Linked DNA regions of Homo sapiens: region 2 is linked to region 1. The links come from fine-mapping of genetic effects on gene expression. A gene starts in region 1. The other region holds a variant in brackets. All regions are shown on one strand. Distances are from middle to middle. Region 1 holds the start of LRAT (lecithin retinol acyltransferase). Region 2 holds the start of LOC124900169 (a long non-coding RNA gene).

What was found.
Region 2: its variant is fine-mapped to the expression of LRAT in atrial appendage (GTEx, PIP above 0.99). The same link has a PIP of 0.9 or more in gastroesophageal junction, tibial nerve and visceral fat.

The regions. Positions count from the first base shown.
Region 1 is chr4:154,742,615-154,745,516 of GRCh38, forward strand. LRAT (lecithin retinol acyltransferase) reads left to right here and starts at 1,386. Exons shown (of 3, transcript NM_004744.5): 1 at 1,386-1,608; 2 at 1,712-2,252. The coding sequence starts at 1,713. RefSeq lists enhancers at 1-224, 225-737.
Region 2 is chr4:154,625,407-154,628,308 of GRCh38, forward strand. It overlaps LOC124900169 (a long non-coding RNA gene), which reads left to right and starts at 1,556. Exons shown (of 6, transcript XR_007058343.1): 1 at 1,556-1,743. RefSeq lists a silencer at 1,383-1,512. The variant C/A (reference allele first, on the strand shown) is at 1,602.

The sequences.
Region 1 (2,902 bases):
GCCTTTGTCTGCAGAATTTAAGCATTTACATAATGCATTAGCACGGAACTCAGCACCCGGTGGGGACATCGCGTGCCAAGCCTGGCGCGGCCAACGCTTCAGCGGCTCCCTCACCCGGCAGCTCCCTAGGACCACCCTCGAGGAGGCATTGGAGTCGGGCTGCAGGCGCACGGGCAAAGAACTTAGCATCTCATCCAAGTACTTCGCCTTCCTTGGCCGTCTCCGGGAGGTTATGCTTAAAAACATAAAAATAAAAATAAAAATAAAAATAAAGGGAGGCGGACAAAGTTTCGGTGGGTGAACTGAAGCTGGGTCCATGTGACCCTGAAGCCGGAGAAATAAACTTAACATGAATCTTGCTTTCCTGGCGGGCGTTGGGACCCCGCCGTTTTTCATGCCAACCGTTGGAAGCTTCGTACTCAACGGCCACAGGTGCCTAGGAGCGCAGAGAGGCCTCGGGTTCAAATCACCGGCGCGCAGGGACTGGACTCGCGGGTAGCGACCCCCCCAACCCCCCCCCCCCCGCCCTACACACACACCCTCGCGCCGGCTGAAAGCATGGAGGATTCAGGGCATTTGAAAAAAGAGGGGCTGGGCGCGGTGGCTCACGCCTGTAATCCCAGCGGTTTGGGAGGTCCAGAAGGGCGGATCACTTGAGGTCAGGAGTTCGAGACCAGCCTGGCCAACACCAGCCTGGCCAACATGGTGAGACCCCGTGTCTACTAAAAATACAAAAATTAGCCAGGCGTGGTGCCTGTAATATCAGCTACTTGGGAGGCTGAGGCACGAGAATCGCTTGAACCTGGGAGGCGGAGGTTGCAGTGAGCCCAGATCGCGCCACCGCCCTCCTGCTCTGGGTGATAGAGCAAGGCACTGTCTCAAAACAAAACAAAACAAAACGAAAGATTCGGTCAGGAAAGAATCTGCAGGCATTCGAGGCGCTCGCACTTTGCAAAGTAAATGCAATCTCTTTATTAAGCCGAAGTCCCTCATATCTATCCTTTTAGAGGAAGGTGGTCCAACTCAGAAATCTCTCCCAAGAGGACTTTCCACCGAAGACTACCGCGAAGTGCCAGGAACTCGCCCCAGTCCCGACAGGTGCAGGACCTTTCGTGCCGCCACACCTTGGGACTCTACCTCCCTAAATAGGCCACTTAAAAGCCAGTAGTGCAACCGGGATCCCGCGGCGATAAAGAATCACTGTGCAGAACCCTGGAGCTGGGAGTCGGCCCGCCCCCCTCCCAAAGAAACCGGGATCCCGCGTCCTCCCCGCCGCTAGCGCAGCGCGCCAGCGGCGCCCAATCAGTGAGCTTTCCGGGTCTGTGACGGCCTTCGGCTCCGCCCCCTCGACGGCCATAAAAAGTCGCAGCGAAGCCTGCACCTCCGAGCACCGCGCGCGGCCCTGCCCCCGGCACGGCCCCCAGGTGCGCTCCTTCTCCGGCTGCTTGTAGCACTGGTCTCACTGTCCCCGCCGTCAGCCACCGGTTCCTTATCCGTCTCATTCCCCATTGTGGCTTGGCTGAGCCGGTCGCCAGGCCTCGCTGTCCTCCTTTGCCTTCCTCTCTCCTCAGCGGCCGTACTTTGCGCCGTACCTCACCTGGCCTGCAGGTGAGCAGCAGCGCAGCACCCCTGCCCGGCGAGCTTAACTTGCCCAGCCCGGCCCCTGCCGGAGTGGCACCGGCACCTCTCCAAGACGCCCTCTTCCCTGCAGGATGAAGAACCCCATGCTGGAGGTGGTGTCTTTACTACTGGAGAAGCTGCTCCTCATCTCCAACTTCACGCTCTTTAGTTCGGGCGCCGCGGGCGAAGACAAAGGGAGGAACAGTTTTTATGAAACCAGCTCTTTCCACCGAGGCGACGTGCTGGAGGTGCCCCGGACCCACCTGACCCACTATGGCATCTACCTAGGAGACAACCGTGTTGCCCACATGATGCCCGACATCCTGTTGGCCCTGACAGACGACATGGGGCGCACGCAGAAGGTGGTCTCCAACAAGCGTCTCATCCTGGGCGTTATTGTCAAAGTGGCCAGCATCCGCGTGGACACAGTGGAGGACTTCGCCTACGGAGCTAACATCCTGGTCAATCACCTGGACGAGTCCCTCCAGAAAAAGGCACTGCTCAACGAGGAGGTGGCGCGGAGGGCTGAAAAGCTGCTGGGCTTTACCCCCTACAGCCTGCTGTGGAACAACTGCGAGCACTTCGTGACCTACTGCAGATATGGCACCCCGATCAGTCCCCAGTCCGACAAGGTATGATGTGTGACTCCCAGGGGAAGTGGGCTCCGCGGAGATGCCCCCTCCCATCCCTGACCTTTTCTCTTCCCCGCGAGTAGGGATCTAATTCCTGGACACCTCCCCTACCACTTCCATACCATCCTTTTTCTTTTTCCTTTTTTTTTTTTTTTTTTTTTTTTTTTTTTGAGACGGAGTCTCGCTCTGTTGCTCAGGCTGGAGTGCAGTGGCGCGATCTCCACTCACTGCAAACTCCGCCTCCAGAGTTCACGCCATTCTCCTGCCTCAGCCTCCTGAGTAGCTGGGACTACAGGCACCCGCCACCACGCCCGGCTAATTTATTTTTGTATTTTTAGTAGAGATGGGGTTTCACCGTATTAGCAAGGATGGTCCCGATCTCCTGACCTCGTGATCCTCCCGCCTCAGCATCCCAAAGTGCTGGGATTACAGGCGTGAGCCACCGTGCCCGGCCTTCCATAACATTCTTAAAGTTCTAGATTAAGTAAGGAAAGTTCTGGTGTTCCTAAGGTAGGCTAAGTAAATAAGCAAATGGCAACGTGCCTTGCAGGATATCTCGAAATGCTTAGAGAAAGGATGTGGCAATGCAGGACCGCTTCCAGAGATTCCAGAGCTGCCCAGTATTGCTGCAGAAGTCATCAGGTGTCCAC
Region 2 (2,902 bases), 120 kb before region 1:
CTCCCTCCCATGGTTAGTTAAGGATCAGACTCACTTGTTCTAATCTTGCCTGTACAAGTTAGTAGCTCTGTGTTCCTGGACTATTAGTTAGCCTCTCTGTGCCTGTTTCCTTTTATCAGACTGACTTCCTTGCTCCTCAGCTTGCAGATGGCCTATTGTGGGACTCACCTTGTGATTATGAGAGTCAATTCTCCTTAATAAACTCCCTTTCATATATACATCATATATACATCTATCCTATTAGTCCTGTCCCTCTAGAGTACCCTGAATGATCCACCAGGCTGTCGGGGCTTAAATTCCAGCTTTATAACTTACTTCTAGCTGTGTGACCTTAGGAAATGTTCCTGCTTCTTTGTCTCAATTTCCTCAATTGTAAAAAGGGAATAATATTATTACCCATCTTATAGGGTTGTTTTGTCTAATGTGTTAATAAATGTAAACATTTAAAACATTACATAAGAGCTGATTTTACTATTATTATAAAAAAGCTCTTAAAACAGTTTCTGGTCAGCATTAAGAACTCAATAATTGTTAATGGTTAATATTAGTCATGTAACTACCCAGATAATCCATAAACTGTATTAGTCATCCTGTTAAGAAGCAAGGCCTGGTTTGTCTTCTTCCTTTTATTATACAATTTTACTGCTTCTAATTTAAACTCTTGCCTCCCTAAGTTCAATCCAGGAAGAGAGTCAGGATTAAAGGACTAGAAGGAAAGACAAGAGTGCTGATGGAAACAAAACTACTCAAATATAGGTGTTAAAGAGAGAGAAAGAGACAGAGAGGGAGACAGAGAGAGAGAGAGAGAGAGAGAGAGAGACTTTGTCAGCTAAAAATTAACTAGACTGTCAGCTCCTGCGTCTTCTGCATCCCTCTCAGAACCTGGAAAAAAATATTTGCAGTGGTCCTGATGTCCGCAGCAGGCCTTGCTCCGATGGTTTTGCAGAGTAGCAAGTGAAGATTTCCAAAAGGCGGAAGAGCGGGATAAGAGAAGAAAAAGAGATAGATAAGCTAGCACAGGAACAAGGCTCAGAGCAGGAAAGTTACCAGGACAGAACAGGGAGGGACTGACTGTCACAGGGCAGGGAGCAGGAGGAAAGAAGCCACTTTTCAGTGAAAGGTATTTGTAATTACAAGAAAGCCAGGTTCTTCAGGGCCCTGGAGAAACAGAAATACAATTCCCTGGCTTCTGGGGAGAGCACTTAGGGGCTCCTATATCCTCATCCCTTTGGATTTTCCCTTCTCAAACGCCAGAATTTGGAAAAGGGTGGGGAGGGTCTTTAAATTATTTGGCACAAACTCCGAAAAAGTGGAGAGGCTGTGAGCCAGCCACCCTCCGACTAGGTTTTGTGGTGATGGTTGCTGAAATCACTTGCGCACAGGATGACAGGAGCTGGGAACCTCAAGGTAGGTGAGCCTGCCAAGACGCGGGTCCGGGACTCGGCTGGGGCGCAGATGGAGCCCGCCCGGTAGGGGGTGTGCGGAGCCCTGTTTTCTGGGCTCCGGCCCCCAGCCCAGCCCAGCCGCCGCAGGAGCGCTCGGCCAGTAGGTGTCTCTGCTCCTCGGGCGGCCTTGAGCAGTGCCTAACGTTGAGCGTGAGG[C/A]TCGTGCTCCGGGTCTCGCGGGCGGCCGCCTCGGGCGTCGAGTCCCGGAGATTGGACAGACACCAGAGCCTGGGGACCGCGGAGTGACCGGGTGGGGCTGGAGGGCGGCGCCGCGCCTTCTGGGGAGACGCGGAGGTATCAGGTAATCCCCCGGCGGCCTGCGCCAGGCAGTCATGCCCACCCGAGCCCTGGGACCTTTTTCACCTCCTCTTTCCAGGGAGGAAAGGCGGCAAGGGAGGCGCGAGGAGTTAGTTGCAGCCCTGGAGGCAGACACTGAACTCCAAGATAATGCCACTTGGACTCTGAAAGTGGGCTCTTCTCTACCACGCGATCCAGCTTAGCTTTTACCTTTTCTCTAGAGGTAGAGAGGGCCGGGTGCCAACTCCTTGCTCAACTTCTCACTGGAAAAGTGGCTGCCTTCCTCCGTCTCCCTCCCCTGGGCTCCGGCCAGGGGAGCAAGGCCTGCTGTGGACATGAGGAACTCCCTGCCCTGTCCTGGTAACTTTCCTATTCTGCACCTTCGCTTTGCTAGCTTGTCTACCTCCTTCTTTTCGCTAGCTTATCTACCTCCTTCTCTTCTTCGCTCTTCCTCCCACTGGAAATCTTCACTTCCTAGTCCGCAAAACCGTCCAGCGGAGGTTTGCAACAGAGTCGGCTCTTGGAATCATAGCCCTCTTAGGTTGGTGGTGGTTGTGGATTAGAGGGCAGCAGTAGGGACGATTAAAAGTAGTTTTTAATACTTAAATGGTTTAGGGCTTTCCTGTGCCTTTGTTCTGCCTAAACATTAGTTTGATTTACTAAAATCCTCTCCTACCCCATTTCTGGCATTTGGTAAAGAAACCAAGTGAAGGTAATCAGGCCTCGGGTATTTATGTATGTAGAAATCATCTAGCAAAATAGAACGAATAGATCATTTCTTTTGAGGGGCCGTAAACTTTTTTGTATGTTGAAGTGTGTTTTGATACTTGGGTGTTCCCTTGTTGCTGTGGCTGCCTGTTTCATTTGATTTGAGGGCCTTTGAGCATTGTCTGTCATTGACATTCTACTACTGAAGTTTATTCCTTTTGTTTAAAGTCTTAATATTCTTTTCCAGTCCCCCTAATGAATCACGGTTACCATGAGAAGGATGACCTCATGTTATTGAAGAAAAGTCCTGGTCTGAGATTCAGGAAACAAGATTCAGATGGCTTGTGTCCAGTGTTTAGTTCTGGACCCATTTCTGGGGCTAAGTGGCTATGTGATTTTGGTTGTTCAATTTATTTAACTTCTCAGAACCTTGGTTTTCTCATTTCAGGGAATCT